Homo sapiens: one gene and its partners. The protein of the gene in region 6 purifies or fractionates together with the protein of the main gene of each other region. This does not show direct contact. Each region holds a gene or a part of one and is shown on either strand. Other genes may lie near its edges. The genes, in order: CYP24A1, QDPR, ARFIP1, OGA, BCKDHA, HSD17B8 and MOCOS.

What was found.
Region 1: the proteins of HSD17B8 (region 6) and CYP24A1 purify together in Homo sapiens (affinity purification with mass spectrometry; one large-scale study listed by BioGRID and IntAct). This does not show direct contact.
Region 2: the proteins of HSD17B8 (region 6) and QDPR fractionate together in Homo sapiens (co-fractionation; one large-scale study listed by BioGRID). This does not show direct contact.
Region 3: the proteins of HSD17B8 (region 6) and ARFIP1 fractionate together in Homo sapiens (co-fractionation; one large-scale study listed by BioGRID). This does not show direct contact.
Region 4: the proteins of HSD17B8 (region 6) and OGA purify together in Homo sapiens (co-immunoprecipitation; one large-scale study listed by IntAct). This does not show direct contact.
Region 5: the proteins of HSD17B8 (region 6) and BCKDHA purify together in Homo sapiens (affinity purification with mass spectrometry; one large-scale study listed by BioGRID and IntAct). This does not show direct contact.
Region 7: the proteins of HSD17B8 (region 6) and MOCOS purify together in Homo sapiens (affinity purification with mass spectrometry; 4 studies listed by BioGRID and IntAct, with this or other methods). This does not show direct contact.

What each region holds. Positions count from the first base shown.
Region 1 is NC_000020.11:54,156,987-54,160,486, reverse strand, and holds part of CYP24A1 (1,25-dihydroxyvitamin D(3) 24-hydroxylase, mitochondrial isoform 1 precursor), read left to right. Parts: intron 1-1,363; coding exon 1,364-1,530; intron 1,531-2,322; coding exon 2,323-2,401; intron 2,402-2,901; coding exon 2,902-3,099; intron 3,100-3,197; coding exon 3,198-3,308; 3' UTR 3,309-3,318; exon of another isoform or gene 3,319-3,500.
Region 2 is NC_000004.12:17,505,591-17,509,090, reverse strand, and holds part of QDPR (dihydropteridine reductase), read left to right. Parts: intron 1-3,500. UniProt on the Homo sapiens protein: Catalyzes the conversion of quinonoid dihydrobiopterin into tetrahydrobiopterin.
Region 3 is NC_000004.12:152,782,954-152,786,453, forward strand, and holds part of ARFIP1 (arfaptin-1), read left to right. Parts: intron 1-3,500. UniProt on the Homo sapiens protein: Plays a role in controlling biogenesis of secretory granules at the trans-Golgi network. Mechanistically, binds ARF-GTP at the neck of a growing secretory granule precursor and forms a protective scaffold.
Region 4 is NC_000010.11:101,811,945-101,815,444, reverse strand, and holds part of OGA (protein O-GlcNAcase), read left to right. Parts: intron 1-1,838; coding exon 1,839-1,890; intron 1,891-2,317; coding exon 2,318-2,415; intron 2,416-3,138; exon of another isoform or gene 3,139-3,193; coding exon of another isoform or gene 3,194-3,197; intron 3,198-3,500.
Region 5 is NC_000019.10:41,404,318-41,407,817, forward strand, and holds part of BCKDHA (2-oxoisovalerate dehydrogenase subunit alpha, mitochondrial isoform 1 precursor), read left to right. Parts: intron 1-3,500. UniProt on the Homo sapiens protein: Together with BCKDHB forms the heterotetrameric E1 subunit of the mitochondrial branched-chain alpha-ketoacid dehydrogenase (BCKD) complex.
Region 6 is NC_000006.12:33,203,378-33,207,331, forward strand, and holds HSD17B8 ((3R)-3-hydroxyacyl-CoA dehydrogenase), read left to right. Parts: upstream 1-1,277; 5' UTR 1,278-1,291; coding exon 1,292-1,343; intron 1,344-1,524; coding exon 1,525-1,742; intron 1,743-1,843; coding exon 1,844-1,960; intron 1,961-2,069; coding exon 2,070-2,162; intron 2,163-2,262; coding exon 2,263-2,348; intron 2,349-2,450; coding exon 2,451-2,535; intron 2,536-2,756; coding exon 2,757-2,799; intron 2,800-2,997; coding exon 2,998-3,072; intron 3,073-3,260; coding exon 3,261-3,277; 3' UTR 3,278-3,454; downstream 3,455-3,954. Other genes in the region: zinc transporter SLC39A7 isoform 1 precursor, read left to right, coding at 164-436. UniProt on the Homo sapiens protein: Required for the solubility and assembly of the heterotetramer 3-ketoacyl-[acyl carrier protein] (ACP) reductase functional complex (KAR or KAR1) that forms part of the mitochondrial fatty acid synthase (mtFAS).
Region 7 is NC_000018.10:36,190,497-36,193,996, forward strand, and holds part of MOCOS (molybdenum cofactor sulfurase), read left to right. Parts: intron 1-625; exon of another isoform or gene 626-707; intron 708-2,970; exon of another isoform or gene 2,971-3,500. UniProt on the Homo sapiens protein: Sulfurates the molybdenum cofactor. Sulfation of molybdenum is essential for xanthine dehydrogenase (XDH) and aldehyde oxidase (ADO) enzymes in which molybdenum cofactor is liganded by 1 oxygen and 1 sulfur atom in active form.

The DNA of each region.
Region 1 (3,500 bases), on a different chromosome or scaffold from region 6:
CTTGGTGCTCATTTGTGTGAGTGGCACATGGCACTTAGCAACAGCGTCTTCATGTCTGCGGAGGTGGACACAATGATCATTTTCAGGAAATATTTGGCTTAAATTAGCAAAGTACGGCCTAAAAAATAAATACATATGACTACTAGTGGTGAATATTATGTAGCTTAAAGCTACATTGGCTGTTTCCACCAATATTTTTTCTCTAGTCATTGCCTGTGCAGAGGAAATAAAAGATGCCACTTAAAAGGGTGTGGGCCTTTGTCAGAAACTGTAGCTGGAGTACTCAGCTCAATGTTTGAATTTCTTATTTTTGGTGTTGGCACCCTCGTATGAGGGCTGTTTACATGTGGTTGTAACCCTCAGTGTAGGTAGTGCCTGTTTATTTTTGTGGTGACTTTTTAGGGTGTGGCCAAAGGAACTTTTAAATTTCAGAAATGCCATTTATTGTCCATTTCCACTATAACATTCTCTTAAAGCCTCTCATTAGCAACACCCTGAGGATCACCATCCCTCTCTGTTTACTCCATTTTTATATGAATGTTTTTTATATCAAGCAACTTTTAATTAAATGTTTATTTTGAGATCATTGTAGATTCACATTCAGTTCTAAGAAAAAATAGAAAGGGATCCCTTGCATCCGTTACCCAGTTTTCCACTAATAGTAATGTCCTGTCTAACGAGAAAACGTTGTCACAATCTGAAAATTGGCATTGATTTAACCCACTAATATTCTCATTTCACCAATTTTACATGTACTCATTTGTGTTCGAACAATTATTGCGTCAAACTGTATTTTAGGTCAGGCACAGTTGGCTCATGCCTGTAATCCCAGCACTTTTGGAGGCAGGCAGATCACCTGAGGTCAAGAGTCTAAGACCAGCCTAGCCAACATGGTGAAACCCCATCTCTACTAAAAATACAAAAATTAGCCAGGCATGGTGGTGGATGCCTGTAGTCCCAGCTACTCAGGAGGCTGAGGCAGGAGAATCGCTTGAACCCAGGAGGTGGAGGTTGCAGTGAGCCGAGATAGTGCCACTGCACTCCAGTCTGGGTGACAGAGTGAGACTCCATCTCAAAAAAAAAAAAAAACTGTATTTAAATGTTCTAAAGCAGCTGATTAAAGGATTATACTTTGATTCCCTCAGTAAATAATTTAAAATATATCCTTAATTGATATGTTTTATGAAATAAGTCTGCTTTTTTATATATTGGATTTGTCTAAAGGCGTAGCTATAAGGACGCGTGAAAGAGCTTCACTGATACATTTGCAGAATAAGGTGGTGGGCATCACCTTTTTTTCAGCTAATAGTGGTTTAATGCAGTTATTTACAAAAACTCAAGTTTATGTCCATTTGGCTTGCAGACAGCAAACAGTCTAATGTGGATTCTCTACAATTTATCCCGTAATCCCCAAGTGCAACAAAAGCTTCTTAAGGAAATTCAAAGTGTATTACCTGAGAATCAGGTGCCACGGGCAGAAGATTTGAGGAATATGCCGTATTTAAAAGCCTGTCTGAAAGAATCTATGAGGTAAGAGCCTATCTCTGAGCCAATATAAATGTGTTAGAACACTGTTCTCGTAAACACAAAACAAGTGGTCCCCTACTCATGGGCGGCTTCCCCTAGCTAATTAGAAACAATTATCACACTGCAAAAAAATCTTTGGAGCCATATTTCTTTTCTGGCACTCATTTCCTAAATCATTTGGGCAAATTCTATTAAATCTTGGAAAGCCAGTGCCCTCCCCTTTAATTCAATAATCTTGCTACTCTAATGAACGCTGTAAGCACTAATTAAGATAGGGGCATGATTGAAGGTTATGAGATGGAGGCTCACAAAAGAGCTATATTATTATATAATAGGACACAGAGAAAGCTTTGCTTTTGAGCCTCTGGTATAAAACATTTTTTGGAAATTCTTTTTACATCCTTTTGGGAAAACAAAACTCACAACATTTTAGGATTAGAAGGATACTGTCAACTTTGTGAAGAGTAGATTGGAGAAACATAGAACAAACATCACGCTTCAAGGGCTAGCACGGAAACATACACATTTTAGTCTGGAATGAAGGGGGAAAACCAACGTTAACAGTTTACTAAACAGCCTTGCACTGGGGTTTTAACTAACTCAAGAAGATGAGAGGAACAAGAGATACAATTATTGAGAAGAAAAAAACAACTTCTTTAGGAAGATCTGTGATCATGCTGCCTCTTTGAGTATGCACTTGGGCAGCATTTATTTAATCCAATCTGCATTCCCATTGACACTTCAGAGAGAACTTAGACTGTGCTCACCTTTACATCTTTGATTTTATCTTTTCAGGCTTACGCCGAGTGTACCATTTACAACTCGGACTCTTGACAAGGCAACAGTTCTGGGTGAATATGCTTTACCCAAAGGAGTAAGTAGAATTTGTATATTCTATACCTTACAAAACCTTGGAAGATACACTTTGCAAATATTCACCAGATCTCCCTAGACTTTGTACTGGAAAATATTCATTTTGGGAATGCAGAGATGGTAGAGAATAGTTGACATGTTGCATAGTATAGAATTAGAATTCACGGCTATGGAGACAGAGACCTGCATTCAGTTTCATCTTTTATCTGTGTTGTCTTGAGTGAGTTACATAATCTCTGTGAGCCTCAACTTCGTCTGTAAAAGGGGTTTAATAACAGAATCTGCTGCGCAGGGTGGTTGTGAGTATGGTGCACAATTCTAAAGCCCTTTACCTATTTATTACCTGGCACATTTTAAGCACTCAGCGCATGTTGGCAACCATCATTATTATAAATTTGTGGATTTGGCTTTTGATTTGTAAGGTGACAACTTGTGTCAATTTTGCCATTCAAAGGTCTCTTCTGGTTATTTTAAATACTATGTGTCTCTGCATGTGTTTAGACAGTGCTCATGCTAAATACCCAGGTGTTGGGATCCAGTGAAGACAATTTTGAAGATTCAAGTCAGTTTAGACCTGAACGTTGGCTTCAGGAGAAGGAAAAAATTAATCCTTTTGCGCATCTTCCATTTGGCGTTGGAAAAAGAATGTGCATTGGTCGCCGATTAGCAGAGCTTCAACTGCATTTGGCTCTTTGTTGGGTAAAACCTTTACCGGTTTCTGCAATTATGTTCTGTGCTGTTTCACAAGGCAGAAGAAGAGAGGGGTAATTCTGTTTTTGTGTGCGTGTGCATTACAGATTGTCCGCAAATACGACATCCAGGCCACAGACAATGAGCCTGTTGAGATGCTACACTCAGGCACCCTGGTGCCCAGCCGGGAACTCCCCATCGCGTTTTGCCAGCGATAATACGCCTCAGGTGAGCATCTAGGCGGTTCATTATCCTCTGCAAGGTAGTGAGAATGACGAGGGATGAGCTATGCTGGGAAGTCAGCCAGACTGGGGTTTGAATCCCAGCTCACCTCTAACTTGCTGGGTGACCTTGAGCAGTTCCCTAAACTCTCTACTTCCTTTTTTTTTTTCATTTGTAAAATGATGACC
Region 2 (3,500 bases), on a different chromosome or scaffold from region 6:
TGCCTCCTGGGTTGAAGCAATTCTCCTGCCTCAGCCTCCTGAGTAGCTGGGATTACAGGTGCCTGCCACCACCCCCAGCTAATTTTTTGTATTTTCAGTAGAGACGGGGTTTCACCATGTTGGCCAGGCTGATCTTGAACTCCTGACCTTGTGATCCGCCCGCCTTAGCCTCCCAAAGTGCTCGGATTACAGGCATGAGCCACCGCGCCTGGCCTGTTCTTCCTTTTTTTTAAAGCTGTTGTTTCTCTAACTAGGAAAGCCATTTGTGTTCATTGAGGAAAATTTGGAAAAAGTGAAAAATGATACAAAGATAAATTATATAATCATTTTGAGTTAGTTCACTGTTAACATTTTGGCCTATTGTCTTTTTCTATGCATATTGTATGTTACTCCTTTTACAAGTTTAGGTAATTTTGTATTTTATAGTTTATGGTAAGCTTTGTTTTTTTTTTTTTTTATACTTAAATAATTCTCCAGATTACTGAAAAAACCTCTTTGTAGATGTGTGATATTCCATTTTATGGAATGGCCACAATTTATTTAGTTTGTTTATTGTACATTTGAGTTTTTTGCAGGATTTTTGTTTTACTATTGTCAAGAATGTTGTGATGAACGTCTTTGTCTACATATCTGATTATTATTGTTTTTTGTTTTAAGAGAGTCTTGCTCTACTGTTGACACTGGAGTGCAGTGGCACAATCTCAGCTCACTGCCACCTCTGCCTCCCGGATTCAAACAATTCTTGTGCCTCAGTCTCCTGAGTAGCTGGGATTACAGGCATGCACCCCAATGCCCAGCTAACTTTTTTGTATTTTTAGTAGAGACAGGTTTTTGCCATGTTGGCCAGGCTGGTCTCGAACTTCTGACCTCAAGTTATCCACCCACCTTGGCCTCCCAAAGTAATGGGATTATAGGAATGAGCCACTGCACCTGGCCCACATATCTGATTATTTAGGATACATTCTAAAAAGTGGAGTTACCCAGTTCACAGCAGGAACACTAACAAAACAGGTTATTTTTAATTATAAAATGATATGCATATTATAAAACAAAAGTCCAACAAAACTACGTAAATATAGAAATAAACTGTGAAACTGTCCCTTTTCTCCCCATCATAGTATCATTTCCCAGAAGGATGCACTATTAACAGTTTGATGGATATCCTGGTATAAATATCTTAGATGCTCTAGGCTGGGTGCAGTGGCTGACACCTGTAATCCCAGCACTTTGGAAGGCTGAGATGGGCGGATCACGAGGTCAGGAGATCAAGACCATCCTGGCCAACATGGTGAAACCCCGTCTCTACTAAAAATACAAAAATTAGCTGAGCGTGGTGGTGCACGCCTGTAGTCCCAGCTACTCGGGAGGCTGAGGCAGGAGAATCACTTGAACCTGGGAGGCAGAGGTTGCAGTGAGCCAAGATTGTGCCACTGCACTCCATCCTGGGTGACAGAGTGAGACTCTGTCTCAAAACAAAAAAAAAAAAAAGAAAGAAAAATCTTTGATGCTCTTAAGCAGTGCTTAACTTTCTTGAGAAGCCCTTCTGGTGAGCTGCCTGGATGACTTTTGAGTCAGGTTCTCACTGTGTTGCCCAGGCTGGACTGGAACTCCTGGGCTCAAAGGATCCTTCTGCTTCATTCTCCCGAATAGCTGGGACTTCCTGAGTAGCCACTGTGCGCAGCTGACTCTGTGTTTAATGGTTTTTAGTGCTGTAGCCCACATTCCCAAGGATAACTTCACATCACTATGTGAAGCGCCTTATTTTCCCAACCACTCAGTGTGGCAGGCAGGCAGGCCATTTTACAGCTGTGAAGACAAGTTTGCGCGACTAAGTGACAAGGCCAACAAGCTACTCAGTGGTGGAGTCAGGATCATAGGTCTCCAGATACGAACTTTAATAAGTTCAGGTGCCACTTGGTCTGTACGTGGGTCTGCTTTTCATTTAGTTGCACTTTCCTTGGTAATCTCAATACTGATGTTTTATGATCCTTATCTGGTTTTTATAACAAATTTTTAAAATTTTAGAAGTGATGCATGTATGATATAGAAAATACAAATAAGCAAAAAGAAAAGGGAAATCATTTATAGTTCTACCATATAGTTAATCATTTATTTATATTTCCTTCCAGTCTGTCTCTCCAAAATATACATGTATAAATCTATACATTTTGAACATAAAACTGTGAGCACAACTCTGCTACTCATTTGCTCTTTCTAAAGTGTCAGTTTGACATAGATTGGAATGTAAAAGCCAGATGACTTATTTTAGCACTTCATTTTTGTTGTTCTTATTTTTCTCACTGTGGTCTCAATGTTCCCATACCTAAGTCATACAGATTGACCTTAGTGAATTTAATAGTGAAAGTTGACATGGCATCATTGTTAGTTGCCAGGCACCATTCTCAGTGCTTTATTTTCATTAACACGTGTAGTCTTCATTACATCCCCAAACAAAGCTTCTAATTTTATCCTCCTTTTAAATGGGGGTAACTGAGGCACAGAAAGGCCCTGGTATTTGTCCAAGGTCAAACAGATAAAAGGTTGCATAGCCACTATTTGGACATGGGCAGTGGGGGTCTGACGGCTGTTCTCTTAACTGCTATGCTAAGCTGCCTTAAAGCAAAATAGTTTCATGTGAATAAAGTAATAAAGGCCAAAATGGCTGGGTGCAGTGGCTCATGCCAGTAGTCCCAGCACTTCAGGAGGCTGAGGCAGGAGGATCACTTGAGCCCAGGAGTTTAAGACCAGCCTGTGCAACATGGCGAAACCCCATCTCTACAAAAAAATACAAAAATTAGCTGAATGTGGTGGCACACAACTGTAGTCCCAGCTACTCGGGAGGCTGAGGTGGGAGGGTGGCTTGAGGCTGGAAGGCAGAGGTTGCAATGAGCCGAGATCATGCCACTGCACTCCAATCTGGGCAACAGAGCCCAACCTTCTCTAAAAAACAAACAAAAAATAAAGTAATAAAAGCCAAAACTAAATGGAAGGGCGGTTCCTGGGCTTGGAGAGCAGCAGCCCTGCCAGGTGCGGGTCTCTGTAATTGGTGTCTCTTCAGTGTCTCTTCTGCTCTGATTAATTATAGGTTTCTAATGTCCCTGTAGATTGAATGTGGAGGTTGTCCCCACCCAAGGCTTGGCAGTAGAGTGCATCTCTAAGACAGAGATTGAGAGATGCGTTTGTGCTTATAAACTTTTCTTTGAAAATCTCTTCCTTCTTCTACTACTCCACCAAAGGAAGAGGAGTACCTTCTCCACCATACCCCCAACCTTAAGAATTTCTGAACAAACAGCATAACATTCAGTTTTGTCATGAAACTGGGGAAAGAGGTAATCAACTGAAATGTTCCTACTGGGAGAGACACAGGGTGTTGATTTAAGTCTTTTTTAAAAAAAACTAAATGTAGAGATGAGGTCTTGTTATGTTGCCCGGGCTGGTCTTGAACTCCTGGGCTCAAGTGATCCTTCTGCCTCTGCCTCCCAAAGTGCTGGGACTACTGG
Region 3 (3,500 bases), on a different chromosome or scaffold from region 6:
AGAATAAGTTTTCCTCTGTCTAGCAACCTCACTTGGGGGAGCAGTCAACATAAGTTTATAGAGAATAGCGTATGCTAGGCTGGGCACGGTGCCTCACACCTGTAATCCCAACACTTTGGGAGGCTGTGGCGGGTGGATCACTTGATGTCAGGAGTTCAAAACCTGGCCAACATGGTGAAACCCCATCTCTCCTAAAAATAAAAAAATTAGCCGGGTGTGTGTTGCATGCCTGTAGTCCCAGCTACTTGGGAGGGGCTGAGGCAGGAGAATCGCTTGAACCCAGGAGGCGGAGGCTGCAGTAAGCCAAGATCCCACCACTTCACTCCAGCCTGGCCAACAGAGTGAGACTCCATCTCAAAAACAACATCAACAACAGACTAGCTTATGCTAAATTAGTTTCCTTTTAAGGTAATGACAAATTCGGAAGATATTTTATATCTAACACTGTAACAGTTACATTTATTTGCTTACCATGTGCATTAAGCTAAGTGCTTTACATTATTATCTCAAATGATAACCTTATAAAGTGGCTAAAGTCCTCATTTCTGTAGGTGAAGAAAATAAAGCTGAATGATTAACTGAAGCTAAAGTAGTCTGCTCAGAATTGCGCTGGTGGAGCCAGTGCATGGCTCCACCTACGTTGTCTGACTCTAGACTACTACTGTAGACAACTTCTACCATGCGTCCATTATGTCCTTTTTGAAATGAGTTGGAGATATATCACCTGACTTTCTATCAGGTGTTGAGAAAAGGTTGTTTCCTTTCTTAATCTTCAGTGGATGAACATCTGGTTGAATATCATACTGAGAAGTTTGACAAAAAAGTGAATTTGGTGGAGGCAGTTGGTAGGGGTTTCCTATGGGGATGGATATAAGTCTCTGGTGTGTGTGTGTGTGTGTGTTAGAACACACACACCTACTTGAAATAAAGAATTGTAAGTATTATAAATTCTTGAAATGAAGATTCAAATAATAAGCAGATGGTGTGTGTGTATATGAGGAGGGGAAAATGTGAAAATGAAGATTATAAGTAATAAACTGGGCATTGTAAGAGTCTGGAAGTATAAATAAATTTTAGAATAATACATTTGGGATGGAAAGAATAAATTCAGAATGGAAGAAGGAGTAAATTAAACAGGAAACTTTAATATGGTTATGGATGAAAAACTAAAATATTTGTACAGAATGGAAAGTGAGTTGTTCCACTTAATATGGAAGTTGATGACTTAGGATCATGACAATCTAAAAGTCAGATATGTAGCACTACTTCTGGATGTATGAAAAAGACTATTGGCCTGAAAATAATTTTGTTTTCCTTGATCTTTAGTAGCTTTTGGCAGTCATGGAAGCTGCCGAATGGCTCTTGCAGATTAACAGATATTCTTTATGAGACAAAAGTATTTATTTTCTTTTTCTTTTTCCTTTATTCCTATTCTCCTCTTTCTCCCATCTCTCATTCCATTCTCCTCCATTCCTTCTAAGCCTTTGTCTTAGGATGGGCATAGGCAGGTGTTGCTCAAACCTTTAGTTGTTCCTGAAAAAGGAATATAAAGTCTCTTTATGAAATACACTTTTTTCCCTTAATGAACATACTTATTTAAGTGAATGCTGTTTTTCAGAGTAGGCAATCTGCTTTGAAATCTTCTTCTAGTATGACTGTCGGTTCAGATTGAGACATACAAAAATGAAGTTCTTGCCTGGCTTCGTCACTTCGTGACCTCAGTCACCAGAATCTGAATAACTTTGGGTATTTGGAAAAAATCAGATCCTCTCTTGAAAGACAAAGATTTGGGGATCTGAAGGTAGTTGCAAAACAGGCAATTGCTCAAATCTTTTGTGAAAATATGGCAGTGTCTTTACCATGTTCTCACCTAAGATAAGAATTTATATTTTATTTTTGTATATCTGTGATAGCATTGGACTAGCAGCTCCTTGATGTTGAAGCTTGAGCCTCATTGGTCCCTGGGGAACAGTGACATACTGCCTTTGGAACAGGATCATAAAAGCAGCAGAGTTAGTGGTAAGCCCTAAATCTTCCAGAGGAGGGAGTCAGTTCGCCAACTCCAGTTTCTGCTAGCCTGAGATACTCATCATGGCACACATAAAAAATGATTATAATTGTATGGCAGACTAGAGCCAGGCCCTCCTTGGTTCCTTGGAAGCTGTGGAGTGGGGGAATGGGTCACAATTTCAGCACATCTGTAATCCATTCTTGGCACACTGTTTGGAAATCTTTGCCCTAGAGAAAAGGAATATGTTACTCTGTTTAATACCTTCTGTTTGTTTAGCATGTAATAATTTACAAAGCACTTTCACATACATCCTCATTTTATTTTTACTCCAGCCATACCAAATAGGTAGAGCAGATAACATCACCACATTAGAAATAAAGAAATTGAGATTTAGGTAAAGTGCTTTGTCCAGGGTCACATACCTAAAAAGGGATGGATCAGGAATTTATACCCTCAGTGGAAAGAGCCCCTGGGTTTAAGCCCGTGATCTGTAATCTCTAAAATGGCCAGGACCTTATCTGTTTTGTTTCAGTGCTATATATTGCCCAGGGTGGTCTTGAACTCCTGGGCTCAAGCGATCTTCCCGCCTTGGCCTCCCAAAGTGCTGGGATAACAGGCATGAACCACTGCATCCAGCATAAGTATTATAAATTCTTGAAATAAAGATTCAAGTAATAAGCAGAAAATGGAAAGGATGTTTTTTCTATTCCTCTAATCTCTCCACCCACCACACCTCTCTCCCAGTTAATTTGAAAAGTAGGTATTGGGGAATCAGATGAAATATATGAGAAAGCTGTAAACCTGCACTGTCTAATGCCAGGGATGCTAGCCACATGTAGCTATTTAAGTTAGTTAAAATTAAATACAATAAAAGATTCAGTTCCTCATTGTACCAGCCACATTTCAGTGTCAGTATCATATGTGGCTGGTGGCTACTTTATTGGACAGTGCAAATTTAGAACATTTCCAACAACATTGGCCAGCCCTGATAAAACTTTAAAATGCGACATGATATGATGTGATACATAATTCCTATATTGTTGAACCACGAGTTTAAAAATCTGCTACCCATGGTGCCTAGCAGTTTTTGTTTTAGCTGATGAAATGTTATTGCCATGTTCTCTCTCAGCTTTTTGTTTTAACTAAATCCAGATGGTCAAAGTCTAAGTCTAACATTTTTCTTGGATATTTGGGGATTATAGTTAGCTGCTTTTCTAGGATAAAGATGTCAGCTTCATTAAGGGCATGAGTGTTTTCTGTCTGCTTTGAGCTGTAGATCTGTATGTCTTGCTGTCTTGTTGACATCCTTTCTTGAATATCTTAAAGGTATCTCAAATCCAGTATGTCTAAAATGAAACTGATTTCCCCTTCCCTCCCTACAAAACTGCACAACGTTGGTTCTTTCTTTGTTCCTTTTTTCAGTGAATGACACAATTATCTTTTCATTGTAAAATCCAGAAAACTAGAAGTGATCCTTAATTCCCTCTCC
Region 4 (3,500 bases), on a different chromosome or scaffold from region 6:
GGCGTGGTGGCGGGCTCCTGTAATCCCAACTACTCGGGAGGCTGAGACAGGAGAATCGCTTGAACCCGGGAGTTGGAGGCGTAGATTGCATTGAGCCGAGATAGTGCCACTGCACTCCAGCCTGGGCGACAGAGTGAGATTCCGCCTGAGAAAAAAAAAAAAGAATATTTTGTATCACTTGTGAGAGGCTAACATTAGATTGTCCAGATGAAAGTGCTACAGTTATACATTGGTATGTAATGAATTTTAATTTGGTCTGTCATTGTCCTTTTTGTGGTGCAGAGGAGTCATTCTGCCTAGAGATTGGAGCTAAAATACATTGCAGAAATTTGTTTTAGACTAGTCTCTTATGTAGATTGTGTGGGTTTATGTAGAACATTTTGTGTTCAGAATGCTTTTATTAACCTTCTTCATGGTACTCTTGAGAGGCTGTCCTTATCTCTTACTGATGATTAGACTGAGACAAGTGGAAAGTAAAGGTTAGACAAGATGTAAAGTGTGTGGTTTGAGCTGTGATGAGCACACTAGGGAGTTCCAGATACCAGTTTGATGCTTATTCAACCATTTAGGTTATCGGTCTGCGAGTTTGTTTTCTGCAGTGTGTGCATAACTAGTGTTTTGTCCTCTTAGAGGATACTCTGGGGACATTCTTGAGTTTTCTTTGTTTATTCCTTTCCGTTTAAGGACCAGAAGTAATATTCTTGAATTTTCATTTGTTCAGATCTTTGCTCTGTAATTAAGATTGCGTGAGAGTTTGTTGTTTGGGCCAGTTAGGCTGTTGAATTTCTTGGGAATGTGGTTTCAGGCATTTTTTGGTCCCTTTGATTATATCATTGTATGTGGAACTTTTTTTGAGAGAGAGAGTTTTGCTCTGTCACCTAGGCTGGAATGCAATGGCGCGGATCTTGGCTCACCGCAGCCTCCGCCTCCTGGATTCAAGCAGTTCTCCTGCCCTAGCCTCCCAAGTAACTGGAATTCCAGTCCTGGCCAGGAACTTTTTTTAAAAAAGAGGAGCACGATCATAAAATTAAGTCAGATTCTTTCCTAATCCTATCTCTGATTTGTTTTTAATTGCTTTACCTGTTTATCTCCCCTCACCCTTTTGTTGTTGTTGTTTGAGATGGAGTCTTGCTCTGTAGCCCAGGCTGTAGTGCAGTGACGCAGTCTCGGCTCACTGCAAGTCCGTCTCCCAGGTTCAAGTGATTGTTGTTTCTCAGCCTCCCAAATAGCTGGGATTACAGGCATTTGCCACCATACCTGGCTAATTTTTGTATTTTTAGTAGAGACATGGTTTCACCATGTTGGCCAGGCTGGGTCTGGAACTCCTGACCTCAAGTGATCTACCTGCCTCAGCCTCCCAAAGTGCTGGGATTACAGGCGTGGGTCACCTCACCCGGCCTCCCCTCACCCTTTCTAAAGCAGTTTTACTATCATTCTAGGAAGTAATTGTTACTGTTGGCAGCTTGTATTACATTGCTGCCGTTCCCCATTATAAGATTGAGATCTCTTAAAAAATTGGAATTAAATATATTTGGACTTTATCAACAGTGGAAAGATGATAGATGTTTGTTTTAAAATAACTATCACCTAAGTAACTAATGTCATGGTAGAAAAAATAAAAAAAATTACCTAAGCAAAAATGGAATAAAAGTCACCTTGTAACGTCACCACCCAAAGATTAAAGGAACCTTAGTATTTTATTAAATATCCTTCCGATTTGGTGTATTTTATGCTTTTTACAAAATAGGATTGTATTATATGTTTTGTAACTTGCTTTTCTCAATAAAGCTTACCACATTTTAAAACTGAATATAATTTCATTCTTACTTTGAATCTAGGATTTTATGGAAGACCTTGGGTTATGGAACAGAGAAAAGAACTCTTTAGAAGGTAAATCTTCATTATATGAAGGAGAGAGGAGAACCTTAAACTCTTAACATTTTCTTTTGTTTGAAGAAATACTAACAGTGAATAGCCCAGGTGCATTTTGATGGTTTCTCAATTGCAGAAGTTATTTTACCTTGGTCCCTTTTTTCTTCACCTAGGCCTTTGATTTTCAAACTTTTCCTGGGGAGCTGAATAAGTTTTGGGCTTCACCTTACCCAGAGCTGTTGTGTTTTTTAAGAGTGTTTTGTATGTTGGCATACATTGTAATACTTAATTTTTTTAAATTCCACTGATTACAAAAAGGTTAAAAGCTACTGTCATAGAATATTAGCTTTGTATGAGATGGAGATGCTCCAAGAAGAGGGAAATGGAGATTGACAGCCTATGAATGTTGCCTGTTTATACATATGTAATTTTCTTTCTCCTTAAGGCTCCAGAAATGGGAATTAAATACATACTTGTATGCCCCAAAAGATGACTACAAACATAGGATGTTTTGGCGAGAGATGTATTCAGTGGAGGAAGCTGGTAATCTTTTTCTTTTTATCCATAAATTCAAAATCTGTGAAGAAAACGGTTATATTTTAAATGTAGTTGTACAAGAATTTTATGACATTTTATTTTTATTTTGTAGGTAGTTTCCTTTTCTTCTATCTGGTAACTATTCAGTTAGCTGAGATTGAAAGAGTGCTCTGCGCTAGCAAGGTCATGACCATATGTGTGATATCATGGGCGTGCTAGGCTGACTCCATCTGTTCTGTGGTCATAGATTGTGCTGCTTACTTCTGCCAGTGGATTAAACAGTGGGCCACTGGGCAAAGAAGTGCTGGAGCTGGGCTAGGCCCAGGGCAAGGCAAGTGAGGCACGTACCTTGGGTGCAAATTTTAAGGGACCCCCAAAAAGTAATCAACATAAATAATATTTTATGCAATTTTTTTAAAAAACCAAAATTAATGCAGAAATTCATGATGTACACAATGCTAAAATTTTAGGTAAAGACAGGATCAGCACTACTGATTGTTCCTTTTGCTTCAGGCTCTAGTATGGCTTGGCCTTGTCAGCAGTTACTGGTCCTTAAACCCTAGTCCAGGAAAGTGGGAAGCCATTAATAGGCTGTCTTTGGGTTTTGTTTTGTTTTGTTTTGTTTTTTGAGACAGAGTCTTGCTCTGTCCCCCAGGCTGGAGTGCAGTGGTGCGATCTCGGCTAACTGCAAACCTCGCCCTCCCGAGTTCAAGAGATTCTGCTGCCTCAGCCTCCCAAAGTGCTGGGATTACAGGCTTGAGCTCCTGTGCCCGGCCGGCCTGCTATGGGTATACTTAACGTTGAGTTGGTTACATAAAATTGATAAAAAGTAGTATAGCATTGAACCGCCAAATTAGAGAGGTGCTTTTCTTTGGGAACTTGTAAATGGTGAAACATTTTTGTACTTGAAATTAAATGGTATACGCATATAGCTAACAAGATATTTGGTTACAGAGCCCAGCCAAGGCACAGAAGGCTGAAAGTTTTCTTGAATTACAAAGAAGCAATTACAGCTTACCCCATCTCCATCTAGTGTTGTGGTTTACTACTCTATTTAAGTGTGCCTTCAACTTAATTACTTTCTGGTGGTG
Region 5 (3,500 bases), on a different chromosome or scaffold from region 6:
CTTGCTCTGTCACCCAGGCTGGAGTGCAGTGGCACAATCTCGGCTCACTGCAAGCTCTGCCTCCCAGGTTGACGCCATTCTCCTGCCTCAGCCTCCCGAGTAGCTGGGACTACAGGCGCCCGCCACCACGCCCGGCTAATTTTTTGTATTTTTAGTAGAGATAGGGTTTCACCTTATTAGCCAGGATGGTCTCGATCTCCCGACCTCATGATCCGCCCGCCTCGGTCTCCCAAAGTGCTGGGATTACAGGCGTGAGCCACCACGCCCAGCCTAATTTTATTTATTAATTTATTTGAGATGGAGTCTCACTCTGTCACCCAGGCTGGAGTGCAGTGGTGCGATCTTGGCTCACTGCAACCTCCACCTCCCAGGTTCAAGCGATTCTCCTGCCTCAGCCTCCTGAGTAGCTGGGACTATAGGTGCGTGCCACCACGCCTGGCTAATTTTTGTATTTTTAGTAGAGATGGGGTTTCACCATCGTGATCAGCCTGACAGGCTGGTCATGAACTCCTGACCTTAAGTGATTCACCTGCCTCAGCCTCCCAAATCTGCTGGGATTACAGGCATGAGCCACCGCACCCAGCCATATTATTTCTGTATTTTCATTTGGCTTACCTGTCAACTTGACACTTTTTTGTTTTTTTAGGCTAGTCAGGTGAAGCAATGTGAGTAAGATCACCTGTCTTGATTATAACTTGTGTGTTCAGTGTTTGTCATTCATCCCTCCCTGTCTCTAGCCTTCAGTTCAGGGCATGATTTGGAGCAAATGTTCAGTATCTGTTTAACAAGAACAATCATGAGAAATACTTACTCACTACTTGTGTTTATGAAACATTATGTGCCAGGCACTGGGCTGAGCAATCCACACAGGTCAACTCGGTTAATCCTCATGACAACCCCTGAGATAAGTACTTATACCACCCTCGGTGTACACAGGAGGAAACTGAGGCTCAGGGAGTTTTTCTTTAAAAATTTTTTCTTTTTTTTTTCCTTGAGACAGGTCTTACTTTGTCACCCAGGCTGGAGTGCAGTGGTGTGATCTTGGCTCACTGCAGCCTCTTGGGCTCCAGCGATCCTCCCACCTCAGCCCCTCAAGTAGTTGGGGAGTACAGGTGTGCACCACCATGCCCAGCTAATTTTTTGTAGGGATGGGGTCTTGCCATGTTATCCAGGCTGGTCTTGAACTCCTGGGCTCAAGCGATCCTCCCTCCTTGGCCTCCCAAAGTGCTGGTATTACAAGTGTGAACCACCACACCTGGCCTTAAATTTTATTTATATATTTATTTTTGTAGAGACGAGGTCTCACTATGTTTCCCAGGCTGGCCTCGAACTCCTGGACTCAAGTGATCCTCTTGCCTCAGCCTCCAGAGTAGCTAGAATTACAGGCGTCTGCCACTGCACTTGGCTCAGGGAGTTTAAGTCACATAATCAGGCAGCGGTCTGCTCAGTTAGAGTCCATGCGCTTAGCCATGGTGCCTTCAAGTGACTCCACCAGGGTCACCCCAGTACTTCCTGGGCAGACCAGACCATCCAGAGCGGGCAGGTTGTGCTTTCCTGCATGGTGGGAGAGGACGTGGCATGAAGCTTTGTGTAAATCTGTGCAGCCTCTGCCATTGTAAATCACTGGCCACCGGGACAGACTCCCCCACCCCCTTCCAAAAACTAGAGGAACAGATGGGTGGAGTCGCATCCTTCCTCTGCAGGCATTTGGCCACCCACTCCCATTATGGAGCATTTCCTCAGGACCAGGCACAGCGTGGAGCCCTTTGCATAGCTCACTGAATTGGGGCAGCAACCCTGGGGCTGGGGACTACCATTATCTCCACCAGCCCAGCAAAGAGGGGAGGAGGGTACAGCCGAGACCCAGCTGCAGTATGTGGAGCACACTGGGGTGCCGTGAAGATAGCTGTCCAGCCTCTAGAGGCTGACAGTCCTGCCCTGACACAGTGGTTTGTTCTCAGACTCTGGCCTCCCCTCTTAGTGCCCGTCTGAAGACTTCAGCCTTCGGTCCTCTTCCATCAGCATGCCGTCTCCCCTGTGCCTCAGTCTCCCTCTCTGGAGTATCTGCTGGGGCCACAGTTTGGTTTTATTGTTCTTTGAGACAGGGTATCACTTTGTTGCCCAGGCTGGAGTGCAATGGTGCAGTCATGGCTCACTGCAGCCTTGACCTCCTGGGCTCAAGCCATCCTCTCACCTCAGCCTCCCGCAACTCCAGTATCTGGACTACATGTAAATGCCACCATTCCCAGCTAATTTTTTTTTTTTTTTTTAGATAGAGTCTCACTCTTGTCACCCAGGCTGGAGTGCAATGGTGCCATCTTGGCTCACTGCAACATCCGCCTCCCAGGTTCAAGCCATTCTCCTGCCTCAGCCTCCCAAGTAGCTGGGATTACAGGCACCTACCATCATGCACGGCTGTTTTTTGTATTTTTAGTAGAGACAGGGTTTCACTATGTTGGCCAGGCTGGTCTTGAACTCCTGACCTCAGGTGATCTGCCTGCCTCGGACTCCCAAAGTGCTGGGATTACAGGCGTGAGCCACCACGCCCAGCCTTCCTGGCTAATTTAAAAATTTTTCAGAGACGAGGGTTTTGCCTAGGCTGGACTCACTATGTTGCCTAGGCTGATCTCGAACCACTGGCCTTAAGTGATCCTCCCACCTCAGCCTCCCAAAGTACTGGGATTACAGGCATGAGCCGCTGCACATCGCCACAGTTTGATTTTAGTATCCACTTTAAGGTGCAGTTAGTTCTTCCCAGCTCCTCTTTTCCCTATCTCATACAGTGTAGTCACTTCCCTTTCTCCCACTTCTCACCTTCCTAGATTTTGTTTTTCTCTCTCTTACCAAGTTTTGAGTATGTAATACGTCCCAGATCGGTGCTGAACCCCTGGTGTGAGTTAACTTAGCAACTTTTCACGTGGTGTTCTGCAGCCTTCTTACAGATAAGGAAATTCAGAGAGGTGAAGTGTTTTTGCAGAGAGCCACACAATGAGCTAAGAAATTAGAACCCAGGGCAGTTGAACTCCAGAGCCAGGGAACTTAACAGCCCATTCATGCATTCACTCAGGAATTCCCTCTTGAGTGCCTGCTGTGAAGGCAACCTGGACGCTGTCTCTGCCTTCCTGGGATTGTGGTGTGTGTGGGAGACAGACACGAAACAAAGCAATCTTCTAGGTCAGTGTCTGGCTATGCTGGGTACTCAGAAGGGGGAAGCACTGTGCTGCAAGAGGCCGGCTGTTTCCTCCTCACAAGGGGAGGCCTGCAGTGACATTGCCAGGCCTGAATCTGCCCTGCCATTGGGAGTGTAATTTCCTCACGACTACAAATGCAAATAAATACACACACTGAACATGCTACCCCGCTAGAACTGTGGACAGCTTGTTCACTGCAGTTAAAGGAAGACGGAGGGACACATTTGAGCACGCATGTGTGAGATCCAGCTTGTGGCAAACCCTGCCATTCTTTAACATCTGTGGGAAGTGAAGCCACCATTACTGACC
Region 6 (3,954 bases):
TTTTTCAGAAATTGTCTATTCTAGACTGCTCCCTCTTCTCTTTTTATTTTGATGTTTAGTTTCCAAATCCATGTCCCCTATACCTATACCCCACCAGCCACTTCTAAACCACTGATAATCTTTAGCTATTGGTGAGTGCCTTTTTCTCTTTTCTGCCCATCAGGCGATGCGTCTGCAACTACTGACAGCAGTAGGGGCACTGGCAGGCACAGCCTGTGCCCTTCTCACTGAAGGAGGAGCAGTGGGCAGTGAAATTGCAGGTGGTGCAGGTCCTGGCTGGGTCCTGCCATTTACTGCAGGTGGCTTTATCTACGTAGCAACAGTGTCTGTGTTGCCCGAGCTGCTGAGGGAGGCATCACCATTGCAATCACTTCTGGAGGTGCTGGGGCTGCTGGGGGGAGTTATCATGATGGTGCTGATTGCCCACCTTGAGTGAGGGGTGGATAAACTACCCCTGCCCCAAACCTCTACCCCTAACTCCAGGTCAGGGGTGCGTAGAGGTTGGGGGCCCTGGCCAGGGACATCTGCCAAAGGAAGGAACTGTAGCCTGGGAGAATGGTTACTTTGGCATTAGGGCCTTCAAGGGCTGGCAGTCTTACAGAGGCTGGAGCGGTGAGAATGAGAGGCCAGAGGGACCATAGTGTTGGGCACTGTCTGACCATGTTGCATTTGGAAGGCTAAATGGGGCCATGAAGAAGGCTGGAAGGGACAGGGGGTGATGGCAGCCTACCTGGTGTCCCCTACCCCACCTGTTCTCGGAGAACCAAGTTGCTACACAGGAAGTTCTCCAAGGTCCAGTTTCCTTTCTCCCACCAGTTGGTGGAGGCTTCAGGGAAGACCAGAGTCCTGGACAGAGAGGGTAACAGGAGGAGTCGGGGATAAACATCAAACATCAATCGTGTGTCCTGATTTGGGAGTGATTGGGGGGATGGGGTGGGAGAGGGTTAGTTGGTATTCTCATGGCCTGATTTTTTTTGTTTCTATTCCTTTTATATCACTGTGTTTGAATCGAGGGGGAGGGGTGGTAACCGGAAATAAAGACCTCCGATCTTCCGCCCCACATGCAGTCTTTGTCTTTTTGGGGGGAATGGGGCCCCTTGTCTTCTCCACACCCGGGGCCCCTAAGCAGCAGTGTCGGGCCACGCCCCCTCGGTGGGAGGTCGGCCTGCGCTGGTGGCCGCAGATGGCCTAAGGCTGGCGGGCCTTTGATTGGCCCCGGCTTTGCCCTTGCCACGCCCCTCTGCGCTGGGATTGGCTTAGTGCTGGGATTCCCACCCACCCACAGCCCGCCATGGCGTCTCAGCTCCAGAACCGACTCCGCTCCGCACTGGCCTTGGTCACAGGTTGAGGGGGTTCTTTCCCCGGGCGGTTTGGGGTATTGGAGTGAGGTCAGGGGCGTGCCCTTGGAGTGCGCGGCCGCTGTGACCTCTGGCCCCTTACCCACATTTTACTTTCTGCCCTGTGACCTCTGATCCCTGCCCTCTCCTCCCCGTGCCCGGTCCGGCGTGTTCTGTCCTACCTCAGGTGCGGGGAGCGGCATCGGCCGAGCGGTCAGTGTACGCCTGGCCGGAGAGGGGGCCACCGTAGCTGCCTGCGACCTGGACCGGGCAGCGGCACAGGAGACGGTGCGGCTGCTGGGCGGGCCAGGGAGCAAGGAGGGGCCGCCCCGAGGGAACCATGCTGCCTTCCAGGCTGACGTGTCTGAGGCCAGGGCCGCCAGGTGCCTGCTGGAACAAGTGCAGGTGAACGCTAGGCCACTTTCCCCCTCTAAAGCTCTGATATTGCCTCCACTGCCCCGGCTTTTTGTGGGGGGTTTTTGATGCGTAACCTCCCCCTCCCATAGGCCTGCTTTTCTCGCCCACCATCTGTCGTTGTGTCCTGTGCGGGCATCACCCAGGATGAGTTTCTGCTGCACATGTCTGAGGATGACTGGGACAAAGTCATAGCTGTCAACCTCAAGGTGGCGATCTCTGAACCTGCGACGTTTGGCCCCCTTAGCCTGGGGAGGGAGTTGGAGGAGGGCTGTCACCCCAGCTGATCTTTTCTCCCTTGTTACCCTTTCCCGCCAGGGCACCTTCCTAGTCACTCAGGCTGCAGCACAAGCCCTGGTGTCCAATGGTTGTCGTGGTTCCATCATCAACATCAGTAGCATCGTAGGAAAGGTCAGGTTGAGTTGGACGAGGTCAGCCAGCCAAGTGGTATAGAGAGGAGAACCCCTCCTTGAGACTCCTGACTCATTCCACATCTCTGACTCACCTATAGGTGGGGAACGTGGGGCAGACAAACTATGCAGCATCCAAGGCTGGAGTGATTGGGCTGACCCAGACCGCAGCCCGGGAGCTTGGACGGTTGGTCAGATGCTTGAGGGTGCTGGGGAGCACCTGGGGGGTCTGAGGGAGGTACCAGCATTCAGCCCTCTCCAGAATCGGCAGCCACTCTCCTTCCCACAGACATGGGATCCGCTGTAACTCTGTCCTCCCAGGGTTCATTGCAACACCCATGACACAGAAAGTGCCACAGAAAGTGGTGGACAAGGTAGGAGGCTGTGGGTGGAGGGCAGAATCATTCAGAGACTCAATCTCTCTGGGCTTCACAGAGAGAGAGAGAGAGAGAGAGAGAGAATACTGGGCACAGTTCCTGGCAAACATTAAATATTCAATGAATGTATGAGAAATGAAGACAAAAAAGGGTCACAGACTCAGTCTTCAAAAAAATCCATAAAAGAAGCTTTCACCCACATGAGTATTTCCTTACAGATTACTGAAATGATCCCGATGGGACACTTGGGGGACCCTGAGGGTGAGCACTGAATGTAGTGGGGTCCCTGGGAAGGGGGCCTGAATGAAGAGATCCCCAAAGTTTGGGGATTTTCTAGGGGACTGGTGGTTGGTGTCTGTGGAGAGGTTTGTGGGGAGGGATGTCTTTGGTGGGAGATTATGGCTGTTTTGGGTCTATGGGAGTGAGCAGAATTCTGCCCTCTCCCCACCATTCTCATAGATGTGGCAGATGTGGTCGCATTCTTGGCATCTGAAGATAGTGGATACATCACAGGGACCTCAGTGGAAGTCACTGGTATGAGGCCAGCATGGGGAGGGAGAGGGCAGAGAAGTAGAACCCAGACTATATGAGAAAGCAAGTAAGGGGAGTCTGGAGCCACTGGGAAGGGCAGAGGTTCCCAAGGCCAGGGACAGAAGTGGGTACCCCCTAGCCCATTTGTGTCTCCACCCATGCATCTGTCCAAATGTTTCTGCCCCTCCCAGGAGGTCTTTTCATGTAACTGCCTCAAGGACCCTGGACTCTGCTCACCCCCCCACCACTCTGCCTGGCCTCCTGCTGATGAGGACTCTAAGTTCCCAGGATACAAAAGGGGTGGCAGTGTATGGTTCAGGAATGCTGAATATGGGAAGCAGGGGTGCTTGTGACCCTAATAAATTCCAAGTCCTCTTCCCTGCCACCTCCGGCTCTTCTTGTGTCCAAGCCCTCAGACCCTTCCCCACCTCCCCCTCCTTTCCCTTTCCCGAAGGATTGTTCCCTTTCTCTGCCTGGTCTCCCAGGGCAACCCCCGCCGCCGGGTGTGAGAGGAAAGAGTATGTGTCACTGTGTATGCGTGACACTCCGGGTCTTTTTGAAGGGAGGGGTTCGTGCGTCACCCCTTTCCACTGGTTCTGCAGCACCAGTCCCCTCCCCCCAACTCCCTGGGTTCTTATGGTCCCCAAGGGTGATTTGTTCATGGCCCCATCTTGGTGTCCAGTCTGGCCTTGAAAGGGGGTCTTGGAACAGGTGGCCCTCCCCCACCCCTCTCCTTTCTCTGAGTCCCCCCCTCCCCTTTCTCTCCACCTTACAATAGCTGCAGCCGGCCTGGGGTCGGATGGGGGGGATTAGGGGAGGGGGCCAGGATTAGGGGAATGAACCAGCCGATGAAAGGGGCTGGAGAGAGCAGGAGGGAGGGGGCTG
Region 7 (3,500 bases), on a different chromosome or scaffold from region 6:
CCTAGCACTTGGGAGGCTGAGGTGGGCAGATCACTTGAGCCCAGGAGTTCAAGACCAGCCTGGGCAACATGGTGAAACCCCGTCTCTACAAAATATACAAAAATTAGGCAGGCATGGTAGCTCATGCCTAAAGTCCCAGCTACTGTGGAGGCTGAGGTGGGAGAATTGCTTGAGCCTGGAAAGTCAGAGCTGCAGTGAGCTGAGATTGCACCACTTCACTCCAGTCTGGGCAACAGAGTGAGACCCTGTCTCAAAAAAAACAAAAAAACAAAACAAAACAAAAAAACTTTCTTTGGCCAGGTGCAGTGGCTCATACCTGTAATCCCAGCACTTTGGGAGGCCAGCCTGGCCAACATGGCAAAACCCAGTCTCTACTAAAAATATAAAAAAATTAGCCCGGTGTGGTGGCACATGCCTGTAATCCCAGCTATTTGGGAGGCTGAACCTGGGAGGTGGAGGTTGCAGTGAGCCAAGATTGAGCCCCTGCACTCTAGCCTGGGTGGCAGAGCAAGACCCTATCTCTCAAAAAAAAAAAGAAAAAGAAAAAAAAGTGTGTAGCACCTGCCCCTTCACAAGCACCTTCTCTCTCTCTGTCTCTCTCTGTCTCTCCTGTCACCATATGAAGATGTGCTTGCTTCGCTTTCCACCAAGATTGTAAAGTTTCCTGAGGCCTCCCCAGCCATGACTCCTATACAGCCTGTGCAACTGTGAGTCAATTAAACCTCTTTTCTTTATAAACTACCCAGTCTCAGGTAGTTCTTTATAGCAATGTGAGAATGGACTGATACAACATTTAGTGGTATCAGATTCAAAAGTTGCCAAAGGAGGGTGAAGAATCACCAGGGAGCCTCCCTCTCACGCCAGCTGCAGCCACTGTGTCTACCTCAGAGTCAATTGCTGTCACTCATGTCTTGTGTATCTTTCCAGTGGTTGTCCATATTTATGTGTGCATGTGCACACTTTTTGAGACGGGGACTTGCTCTGTCACCCAGGCTGGAATGCAGTGGCATGATCATAGCTCACTGCCGCCTTGACCTCTTGGGCTTAAGCTATCCTCTTGCCTCAGCCTCCCAAGTAGCTGGGACTACAGGTGTGCACCACCATGCCTGGCTATTTATTTCTATAGAGATGGGGTCTCACATGTTGCTTATGCTGGTCTCAAATTCCTGGCCTCAAGCAATCCTGCCTTGGCCTCCCAAAATCCTGGGATTATAGATATGAGTCACTGTGTCCAGTACACTTAAAATACGTGTGCACACACACACACACACACATGTGAGCCATATGTCTCACCACTTGACATAGTTTGTGTTTAAGGTCTTTCTCTGCCATTATCATGCTATCTTCTATTTTGTTCATTGCTGTGTCTCCAGCACTTAGAACAATGCCTGACACATAGTAGGTGCTCAATAAATATTTCTTGAATGCAAATACACTCAATAAACTAGGAATGAAGGAAAAGTTAACCAACTGATAAAGGTCATCTGCAAAACCCCCCACAGCTAACATCATACTTAGTGGTGAAAGACTGAAAACTTTCATCCTGAGTTTGAAACAAGACAAAAGTGCCTGTTCTCACCATTTCTATTCAACATTGTACTGAAGGCTCTAGCCAGGGCAATTAGGCAAGAAAACAAAATAGAAGGGATCCAGATTGGAAAGAAGTAAAACTATCTCTACTTGCCAATAATGTAATTTTGTGTATAAAAAATTTCAAGGAATCCACACACAAAACTATTGGAATTTAAAAACAAATTTAGCCAAGTGGTAGGATACAAGATCAATATGCAAACATCAGTTCAATTTCTATACATTGGCAATAGATACTATGAAAATGAAATTAGAAAAACAATTCCGAAGGCATCAAAAATAATAAAATACACAGAAAAAAATTTATCAAAAGAAGTATCACATACACTGAAAATTGTAAAACATCATTGAAAGAAATTAAAGAAGACCTAAATAAATGGAAAGATATCCTGTACTGATGGGTTGGAAGACTTAATATTGTTAACATGGCAATAATCCCCAAATTAATATACAGATTCAATGAAATGCCTATCAAAATCCCAGCTGCCTTTTTGCAGAAGTTGACAAGCTGATTCTAAAATTTATATAGAAATGCAAGTGACTCAGAATAGCCAAAGCAATCGTTTTATTTTATTTTTTGAGTCAGAGTCTCACTCTGTCACAAAGACTGGAGTACAGTGGTGCAATCTCAGCTCACTGCAATCTCCACCTCCCAGGCTCAAGTGATTATCCTGCCTCAGCCTCCCAAGTAGCTGGGATTACAGGCGCACGCCATTACCGCCTGGCTAATTTTTGTATTTGTAGTAGAGATGGGGTTTCACCATGTTGGCCAGGCTGGTCTTGAACTCCTGACCTCAGATGATCCACTCACCTCAGCTTCCCCAAGTGCTGAGATTACAGTGTGTGCCACCACACCTGACCTCAAAGCAATCTTGAAAAAGAAGATCAAAGTTAGAGGAATCACACTTTGCAGTTTCAAAACTTACTACAAAGTTACAGAATGGGCCGGGCGCGGTGGCTCACGCCTGTAATCCCAGCACTTTGGGAGGCTGAGGCGGGTGGATCATGAGGTCAGGAGATCGAGACCATCCTGGCTAACAAGGCGAAACCCCGTCTCTACTAAAAATACAAAAAATTAGCCGGGCGCGGTGGCGGGCGCCTGTAGTCCCAGCTACTCGGGAGGCTGAGGCAGGAGAATGGTGTGAACCCGGGAAGCGGAGCTTGCAGTGAGCCGAGATTGCGCCACTGCAGTCCGCAGTCCGGCCTGGGCGACAGAGCGAGACTCCGTCTCAAAAAAAAAAAAAAAAAAAAAAAAAAAAAAAAAAAAAAGTTACAGAATGAGGACAGTGTGATATTGGCATAAGTATACACATATAGACAAATGAAATATAATTTTAATTTAATAAACCCATATGTCTATGGTCAATTGATTTTCAACAGATACCAAGACTATTCAACGAGGGAAATAACTTCTTCAATAAGTGATATTGGGACAACTGGATATCAACATGCAAAAGAACGAACTTGGACCCCTACCTCATTCTGCATTCAAAAATTAACTCAATGGATCAAATACCTAAATATGAAACAGCTAAAAGTATAATATTCTTAGAGTAATATATAAGCATAAATCACTAGGACCTTGTTGAATTAGACAATAATTTCTTATGACACCAAAAATGCAACAACATAAATAGACAAATTGGATTTTATCAAACTTAAAAAGAACTTGTATGTTTCAATGAACACCATCAAGAAAGTGAAAGGACAACCCACCAAATGAGAGAAAACACATCCACACAAAAACTTGTACACCAGTATTCATACCAGCAATCATTTATAATACACAAAAGTGGAAACAATCCAAATATTCCTCAGTAGATGAATGGATAAAATGTGGTATATTCATACAATGGAATACTATTCTGCCATAACAGGAATGAAGTTCTGATACATGCTAAAATGTGGAC